Linked DNA regions of Homo sapiens. The protein of the gene in region 1 purifies or fractionates together with the protein of each later gene. This does not show direct contact. Each region holds a gene or a part of one and is shown on either strand. Other genes may lie near its edges.

Region 1 (5,636 bases):
CAGGCAGTATCGAAACTAACCATCCTCACTTTTCATTCCCAACAGCATGGGATGCTGTCACTTGCCTAAGGCTCAAGATTTGACTCTGAAGAGTGAGTGATTGAGAATGAAATTGAGAGGATGCCCAGGAGAACTGCAAGGTGTCTAACATGATCACCATCACTCTATTGGTCAATATCTAAACTCAGGCAACTGAATCCTGCTTTGGCAAGATGCCCAACCAGACAGTCTGAAGGGATATACACCTACAAAACAATGAAATCCTAGATAAAATGGACTTTCAGAATGTGCTCACTAGACTCAGTAATGACAGAACCCTCCATAAACACAAAGCAAGCTAAAACCTATGAGCAACAAGCAAGTGAGGCTGCCCTGAACGCAAGCGTCCATTATGATGTGGCAAAATGGAGATGAATCTGAAACTCCCACATTAACACAACCCTCAAAAGAGACTAAAGTGATTCCACGTGAGTGGTACCCCCTGGTTTTCAGATGAATCAAATGCCAAAACTTTCTGGAGGAAAAGATTCTCCACTTTAGGCTTCCAGGATAGCCAATGAAGAAGAACAACCATTATGAGCTCACAATCATGGATCACCAAAAATGTGAGAAAAGAAGTCGCCACAAGAACACAAGCAACAAACAGATTTTGATCCCTGAGGAATTCAGATATTAGAATTATCAGCCACAAAATACAGAAATAGCTATGCATGAAATGTTTAAAGAAATAACACATGGAATCACAAAAACAGGCATGCAGCATGCAAAATAAATAGTCAAATCTGGCCAGGTGTGGTGGCTCATGTCTGTAATCCTAGCACTTTGGGAGGCCGACGTGGATGGATTGCCTGAGCTCAGGAGTTCGAGACCATCCTGGGCAACATGGTGAAACCCTGTCTCTACTACAATACAAAAAAGTTAGCCAGGTGCCGTGGTGCAAGCCAATAGTCCCAGCTACTTGGGAGGCTGAAGTAGGAGAATTGCTTGAACCTGGCAGGCAGAGTTTACAGTGAGTTGAGATCACGCCACCACACTCCAGCCTGGGTGACAGAGCAAGACTCTGTCTCAAAAAAAAAAAAAGAAAGTCAAATCTGTGAAGTCATCAAACAGAACTTCTAGAAATTAAAAATACAGTTTTGTTGAAATACAAAGTGAATGAATATGCAGTGATAAAAGGAAAGGAGTAATCAAGCCACGAAAAGACATTGAAGAACCTTAAACATATACTAAGTGGAAAGAGCAATTTGAAAAGGCTATATACTACATAATTCCAATTACATGACATTGGAAAAAGCAAAATTATGGAGATAGTAACAGATCAGTGGTTAACAGGGATTCTGGGGGAGAGAGATGAATAAGTGGAGCTCAGGATATTTTTGTAACAGTGAAACTATTCTATATGAAACTGTAATGGTGGATACATACTGTTAATGGCCTCAATTGTGTCCCCCACCCCACTCCAAAGTTCATATCTTAAAGTCTTTAAAGAGGTAGCTGAGGTAAAATGAGGTCATTGCGGTGGGCCCTTATCCTTATGAGAAGAGGAGATTAGGACACAGACAAACTTAAAGGGAAGATCATGTGAAGACATAGAAGACAGCCATCCACAAGAAGAAACCAACCCTACCAAGACCTTCATATTGGACTTCTAGCCTCCAGAACTGTAAGAAAATAAACTTCTATTGTTTAAGCCGGTTAGTCTGTGTATTTGTTATGGCAGTCCTAGCAAACGAATACATATGTTATTATACATTTGTCAAAACACATAGAATGTACAACACCAAGAATGAACCCGAATGTAAACTAGGGACTTTGGTTAATAATAATGTATCAATATTGGTTCGTCAATTGTAACAAACTATCTTTCAAAAGTAAGAGCAAAATAGACATTTTTAGATAAGCTGAGTGATTTTTCCATCCTTCCCTCACAGCCCTCAGAAAAAACAATCCTGCTGACACTGTGATTTTGGACTCCTAGCCTCCAGAACTGTGAGACAATAAATTTCTGTTAAGACACAGTTTGGGCTGTGGATGGTGGCTCATGCCTGTAATCCCAGCACTCTGGGAGGCCGAGGTGAGAGGATCATTTGAGCCCAGGAGTTTGAGACTAGCCTGGGCAACATAGTGAGACCCCATCTCTATAAAAAATAGAAAAATTAGCCAGGTGTGGTGGTGCATGCCTATAGTCCTAGCTACTTGGGAGGCAGGGGCAGGAGGATCGATTGAGCCTGTAGTGAGCTGTGATTGCCCCACTGCACTCCAGCCTGGGTGACAGAGCAAGATTCTGTCTCGAAAAAAAAAAAGACACAGTTTGTGGTACTTTCTTACTGTAGCCTTAGCAAACTAATACAGGGGAGCAAGGCAAAAGCAAGGAGACTAATAAAGGGGCTACTACAATAATCCAGGCAAGAGATGATAGTGGACTGGACCAGCTGGGGTGGTAGAGGGGTAAGATACCAATAGGTTCTGGATATATTTCAAAGGCAAAGTTAGCAGGATTTTGCTATGGATATGGGATATGAGAGCAAAAAGAGAAGTCAAGGATCACTCTAAGGTTTTTGGCCTGGACAAGTAGAAGGATGGAGCTGCCATTTACAGTGAGGATGAAAGCATGATTAGAGCATGACCAAGACAGTCCAAGGAGAAAAATTAGATCGAATACATACAACTCTTTCAAAAAATTTTTGACTGGGTGTCGTGGCTCACGCCTGTAATCCCAGCACTTTTGGAGGCCAAGGCAGGCAGATCACTTGAGGTCAGGAGTTCGAGACCAGCCTGGTCTAACCTAACATGGTGAAACCCCATCTCTACTAAAAATACAAAAATTAGGCCAGGCGCGGTGGCTCACGCCTGTAATCCCAGCACTTTGGGAGGCCAAGGCAGGCGGATCACGAGGTCAAGAGATCAAGACCATCCTGGCCAACATGGTGAAACCCCATCTCTACTAAAAAAAAAAAAAATATATATATATATATATATATATATATTAGCCGGGTATGGTGGCACACACCTGTAATTCCAGCTACTCAGGAAGCTGAAGCATGAGAATTGCTTGAACTTGGGAGGCGAAGGTTGCAGTAAGCCAAGATCATGCCACTGCACTCCAGCCTGGGTAACAGAGTGAGACTCTGTCTCTAAAAGAAAAGAATTTTGCTGTACCAGGGACAACTGAAAGCTGATAGAAATGATACAATAAAGATAGGAAAAAGGGGTAATACAACATTAGAAGGGAGAGTCACTGGTAAAATATTGGTGAGTCGGTGAGAGGAGACGGGATTTAGCACTCAAGTAGAGGGATTAGCCTTTGCTAGGAATAATGATGGTTTATCAGGTAACAACAGGAAAGGGAGCATGTATGAACACTAGTGGGTAAATGCAGTAGTGAAAATTTTTGAAAGGCCTCTTCCGATTCCTTCTGTCTTCTGGTAAAGAGGGACTATAATTACTAACTGAGAGCAAGGACTATGGAAGAAGTATTGGAGATTTGAAAAGACAGGAAGAAGTATGAAATAGTCCCCTAGGAGAGAATCAGAGAAAATAAAAAGGATAGCTAAAGGACATATTTCAGGTAGGAAATGATCCCAGAGGAAGGCCTAGATACAAAGAATAGTGAGCAAATAAACCAGCAAACATGTAGATAAATATGTAAATATTGTCTGTATAGCAATTTATAATGCCCGATTTGTAGAGTTAAAAAAGAAAGAGAGAGAGAACTAAGCCAGGCACAATGTGCACCTGTAGTCCCAGCTACTCTGGAGGTTGAGTCAGGAGGATTGCTTGAGCCCCGGAGTTTGAGGCCAGTCTGGGCAACAGGATGAGACTCTATCTCTAAAAAATAAATAACTAAGTTTCAAAAAAAAATTAAAATTAGAACTAAATATGAGACAACTCCTTATAAGTGAAGAGTGGGTGATTGAAATTAAATGTTCTAAAGTCCCTCTTACCACTGGGGGTATAATAGTGTTAGATTTTGTTAAGTATGCAAGTAAAATTTCAAGAGTTACTACTAAAAGAAAAGAACTAGAATGCCAACTTCCAAACTAATAAAGGAGATAAAATAAGAACAAGCAAATATTCAACCCCCAAAGAAAGGGCAAAAAGAAAAAAAAGCACAGAAAAAAACAGTAGAAACTGGATAACAGAAACAAGAGCTGTTCTGTCAATAATCACAACAAATATAAGTGGACTAAACTTGCCAATTAAAGTGAAAAGACAAAAATTGTCAGACTTGGTTTAAGAAAAAAGTACCTCTACGATGCTTATAAAAGCATACCTAGCCAGTTGTGGTGGCTCACACCTATAATCCCAGCATTTTGGGAGGCCAAGGCAGGAGGATCACTTGAGGCTAGAAGTTCGAGGCCAGTCTGGGCAACATAGAGAAACCTCACCTCTACAAAAAAATTTAAAAATTAGCTGGATGCAGTGGCATGTGCCTATAGTCCCAGCTACTCAGGAGGCTGATGTCAGAGGATTGCTTGAGGCCAGGAGTTCGAGGATACAGTGAGCTATGATGGCACCACTGCACTCTAGCTCGGGCAACAGAGGGTGACCCTGTTTCTTTTCTTTAAAAAAAAAAAAAAAAAAGCATGCCTAAAACAGAAGGACTTACAGAAGTCCAATGCCAAACAAGATAGAGTCAAGGAAGCTAGATTAATATAAGGTTAAATAAAATTTCTCAGCCAGGCACAGTGGCTCATGCCTGTAATCCCATTACTTTGGGAGGCTGAGGCAGGCAGATCACTTGAGTTCAGGAGTTCAAGACCAGCCTGGCCAACCCCATCTCTACCAAAAATTTAAAAATTAGCTGGGTGTGGTGGCGCACACCTATAATCCCAGCTATCTGGGAGGCTGAGGTGGGAGAATCGCTTAAACCCAGGAGGCAGGGGTTGCAGTGAGCCAAGATGGGGCCACTGCACTCCAGCCTGAGTGACAGAGTGAGACTCTGTCTCAAAAAAATAATAATTAATTAATTAATTAAAATAAATTCTCCATGTACCTAGGCCACTCAGAAGCTAGGTGTCAAACCTTACAATCACGTAAGGTTATTACTAATAGAGACCTAGAACAGCACTGTAAAGTAGAACTTACTGCAATGAGCTGTTCAATATGGTAGTCACTAGCCACATGTGGCTACAGAACAATTGAAATGTAGACAATCCAGCTGAGCTCAACTTTTACTTTTATTTAACTTTAATAAATTTAAAGAGTCACAACACTAGAGATTTAGTCTAACCCTCTTATTTTACTGAGGCCTAGAAAAGAAGTTATCCAACACTCCAAGGTAGACCACAACCAAAATTTAAGTCTCCTGACTCCTAATTAGCATTCTTTTCTAATACCCCAGTACTTCCCAAGCTGTTCTGCTGCAATATCCCTAGAGTAAGTCTAGAGGTATAACGTGAAAATAGTCCACTGTGGCTGGGCGTGGTGGCTCAAGCCTTTGGGAGGCTGAGGCGGGTGGATCACAAGGTCAGGAGTTTGAGACCAGCCTGATCAACACAGTGAAACCCCGTCTCTACTCTACAAAAATTAGCCAGGCATGGTGGCAGGTGCCTGTAATCCCAACTACTTGGGAGGCTGAGGCAAGAGAATCGCTTGAACCCAGGAGGGGAAGGTTGCAGTGAGCTGAGATTGCG
Region 2 (4,360 bases), on another chromosome or scaffold:
ACCCCCTCAGTGCGGTGTGCCTAGGCACAACCTCTTTCCTGGCTGTCCCTCGTGAGGGTACACTGCAGCCCCCTCTGTATGTAAGCTCCCTAACAAATGCTTTGGACTGACCACCCTGGCATTAAGTGTTTCTTCCTTTGGAATCCCAACTGGCTCTCATCCTGGAAAGGTTTGGGGCAGTCCCTTGCAGGAACTCCCCTGCCATCACTTTTAGGGTGACTCCAGACAAGGGTTCAGCCAACAGAACACCCAGCCTCAATCCTGGTCCTTCCCTGGCCTCTTATCAAGTGTAGTCAAATACCCTGCAATGGGAAACTGGATTCCTGGAGAAAAGATGCAACCGGGTGTCTAGAGATCCATTAGGTCATTTCTGTTTCACCATCTGTCACCCTGAACAAGCAGAGACTCCTGTGTCTGAGATGCCGTGGACCCCCGCTCTTCCAGAGGTACCTCCAGCTCCCTTTCTATGCTAATACCAGAAAATTCTCCCCATACCCTGCAGGGATAGGACGGCCCTCCTTTTGAGTTTCCGGGGAGTTCTTCCTCAGAGAATGAGATCTTTGCTCATTCTTGCCTGGTGGTGGTGAGGGTTACAGCGGTGTCATGCTTGGAACTCTGTCAGCTTGTCACACTTGACTCAACAAAGATGGAGTCAGGGTTGCCCTGAGCCAAGGAGGAGCGCAGTCAGGAACACGTGGTGGGTGATGATTGGCCACCTCAGCCCAGCAGTGACTCGTGAAAAAGGCACAAAGCAGACAATAGCCACCACGCATCTCTTGTGGTACAAACTGCCATAATTCTAGTCCCCACTGACTGGTCAAGGGGCAAGGATTCTGTCTTCCATGAGCAGACGGGCCCCGCCACCCTGCAGCAGCTCCCACACTGGGCCAGCATCCTCCTCTGAGGCCACAGTCCCTCCGCAGGCCAGGCCAGACAGAGTCAGATCTTCTGTAGCCGCAGCCTAATCTGGGTGCTTAGGTGCCCATGCGCTCTCAGCTCCCCACAGCACGCAGCATGGCAGGCCGCAGACTTGGGCCTGACTCAGAGTCGGCTTCCCTTCAGCTTGCTGCCATCTGAGCTTCCTCTCCTCCCCTCAGCAATGACCCAGTCCCTTCTGGAAACAAGGATGAGAGGGAAGCAGAAAAGAGCAAATAATGCTTTTTTTTTTTTTTGAGTGGTGGGGGAGGGGGGTTTAGAGACTGAGTCTTGCTCTGTCACTTGGTCTAGAGCACAGTGATGCAATCACAGTTCATTGCTGCCCCAAACTCACGGCCTGGAGGGATCTTCCTGCCTCAGCCTCCGATGTAGCTGGGACTACAAGCATGGGGCCACACCTGGCTAATAATGCTTATCTTTAAATCTGACAGGGTTGACAAACCCTGGAAATGTGAAACCAACATAACTTTAAGCCATAACTGATACTAAGAAAATCCTGGAAATCTTCAGGAATTGTGCGCTCTCAGGGTTAGTGGGGAGCCCTGTTCAGGCCTCCTCACTTTATGAAGGATGAGAAGGCCCAGAATAGAATGGCCTGCAGTGCCTTGCAGTGGGGAAACCAGCTTTGCTTAGCCCTGCTCCCTCGGGAGGGGCTACTGAGTCAGACGGGCTAGACAGTGGGATTGAACCAAGTGTGGCTGCAGGTTGGGGTGTGAGGGCGGGGTGACTGATGCCCCTACGCCTGGTCCCTGGAGGGCCCTCCTAAACGCCAAAGATAGTCAATGACCATTGAATGTTGAAAACAGCCTGGCTCAGCAGGGGTCAGTGGCTCATGCCTGTAATTCCACTACTTTGGGAGGCCAAGGCGGGAGGATCCTTTGAGGCCAGAAGCTAGAGACCAGCTGGGACAACACAGTGAGACCTCCATCTCTACAAAAAATTAAAAAATTAGCCACGTGTGGTAGTGTGCACCTGTAGTCCCAGCTACTCAAGAGGAGGTGGGAGGATTGTCTGAGCCCACGAGGTTGAAGCTGCAGTGAGCTATGAGTGTGCCACTGCACTCCAGCCTGGGTGACAGAACAAGACTGTCTCAAAAATAAATAAATAAATAAAAAGTAAAAGAAAATGCAGAATTAGCTCAAATACTTTAATCTAAAATATCCAACGTATTATTTCAATACGTAATCAGTACATAAGTTATTCATAAGATGTTGCATTCACCTCTGTTCTTTTTCTTGTTTCTTTGTAGAAATGGGTGGGGTCTTGCTATTTTGCCCAGGCTGGTCTCAAACTCCGAGCTTCAAGTGATGATCCTGCCTCAGCCTCCCAAAGTGCTGGGATTACAGGTGTGAACCAATGCCCAGCCTCATTCACTTTGGGGTTTTTTGTTTATTTTTGAGACAGGGTCTCACTCTCTCACCCAGGCTGGAGTGCAGTGGTGCAGTCACAGCTCACTGCAACCTCAACCTCCCAGGCTCAAGCAATCCTCCAACCTCAGCCTCCCAAGTAGCTGGAACTACAGATGTGTGCCACCATGCCCTGCTAATTTTTGTGTTTTGTAGAGATTGGGTCTCCCTGTGTTGCCCTGGCTAGTCCTGAACTGCTGAGCTCAAGAGATCCAGTAGCTGTGGACTCCCAAGGTGTGGTGGGTTTTTTGCATTCCCTTTTGTACCGGTCATTTGGCATCTGCTGTGCATACCACACGCAGTGCAATGACCATGCCAGCCATGTGTGGCTCAAGGTTCCTGTATCAGGCAGCACAGCTCAGGTGAGATGGCTTCCACACTCCAAACGTCATCTTACATGCATGCTCTGGACAACTTTTAAAACGTATAGTTTCTCTAAACTTAAATAGAACGCTTGACTGAATTTATTTTTCCCTCAATGACTCCAGACTCTCACCAAGACAAGCATTGCCCCTCTGTGCTTCTGGGGTTTTCTATTTCCCCTTCCCTGTGGGTATGAGTGAATCTGGTGGTGGTTGTCCCCACAGGCTGTCTGGATGGCTGGGGGACAGGCATCCAGAGGACCCAGGGTGCCTGCTGCAGCTCAGAGGCAAGCTTGAGAGGGCCTGGCCCACAGCCTGGAGAACTCCACACCCGAGTCCTGTGGGAAACCTATGGCCTCCATGCCCCCCAGCCGGATCACTCCAACAACCCCCCTTATGTCCTCCACCCCAGATTCTGCCATTACCAGGGCAGCCGGAGCTCTGTGTGGTCAGATGCTGTAACATGTGGGCCTCAGAGAGCTCTCAGCATTCCATCTGTGGCCTCTGCTTCTCACTCAGCAGCACACTCCTGGTGTGGCCCCACATCTGCCCCATTCCCCTCCACCTCCTCCTCAGGTTCCACTCTATCTCCACAGGGCCTCGGTGCCCTCATGTCCTGGCTTTCTGCCACCCAGCCTACAGGACCTGGGCTATGCTTCCAGGACAGAGCCCTCAAGGAACAAATGACCCTGAGGGTCCCAGCACTCCAGGCCACTCCTGTCCTTGGGTAAATTCTCTCGGAGCCCCCATTCGCTCACACAGCACCCCCTAATCCTCCTGGCCCCTCTATGCCTGCATTTCCAGTGCCACAACCCTCACATACATCTTGACCGTGCCCCCCCACCTGCCTCCTCCCGCCCCCGGCCTACCAGCACCTGGACAGCGCTCTGCCTCACCCACGCCCTCCCACTGCCCCAGCTCACACGTGTGGGGCTCTGCCGACCCCCCTCCTGCTGTAACCCTTGTTACCCCCCTGTGTAACCCTTGCTGCTCTCTGGGCTCTGAAGCCTCCTCCCATCTCCATTGCTAGCGGTTTTTCTTTTTTTTTTTTTTTTGAGACAGGGTCTTGCTCTGTTGCCCAGGCTGGAGTCCAGTCACAAGCTCTTGGCTCACGGCAACATCCCCCTCAGGCTCAGGCGATCCTCCCACCTCAGCCTCCCAAGTAGCTGGGACTACAGATGGGCGCCACCACCATGCCCACCTGGCTAGTTTTTTTTTTTTTTTGAGACGGAGTCTCGCTCTGTCCCCCAGGCTGGAGTGCAGTGGTGTGATCTCGGCTCACTGTAAGCTCCACCTCCCAAGTTCACGCCATTCTTCTGCCTCAGCCTCCCGAGTAGCTGGGACTACAGGCACCTGCCACCACGCCCAGCTAATTTTTTTTGTATTTTTAGTAGAGACGGGGTTTCACCGTGTTAGCCGGGATGGTCTCAATCTCCTGACCTCGAGATCCGCCCGCCTCGGCCTCCCAAAGTGCTGGGATTACAGGCGTGAGCCACCGCGCCCAGCCCTGCCTGGCTAGTTTTTGTATTTTTTGTAGAGATGGGGTCTTGCTATGTTGCCCAGGCTGGTCTTGAACTCCTGAGCTCAAGGGATCCACCTGCCTTGACTTCCCAAAGTGCTGGGATTACAGGTGTGAGCCACCACACTGGTCTCGCT

What was found. Proteins that work in one complex are often made in the same cells at the same time.
Region 2: the proteins of TXNDC12 (region 1) and MZT2B purify together in Homo sapiens (affinity purification with mass spectrometry; 2 studies listed by BioGRID and IntAct, with this or other methods). This does not show direct contact.

The regions. Positions count from the first base shown.
Region 1 is NC_000001.11:52,043,908-52,049,543, forward strand, and holds part of TXNDC12 (thioredoxin domain-containing protein 12 precursor), read right to left. Parts: intron 1-5,636. UniProt on the Homo sapiens protein: Protein-disulfide reductase of the endoplasmic reticulum that promotes disulfide bond formation in client proteins through its thiol-disulfide oxidase activity.
Region 2 is NC_000002.12:130,184,879-130,189,238, reverse strand, and holds part of MZT2B (mitotic-spindle organizing protein 2B), read right to left. Parts: intron 733-4,360; coding exon of another isoform or gene 653-732; exon of another isoform or gene 1-652. UniProt on the Homo sapiens protein: Required for the recruitment and the assembly of the gamma-tubulin ring complex (gTuRC) at the centrosome.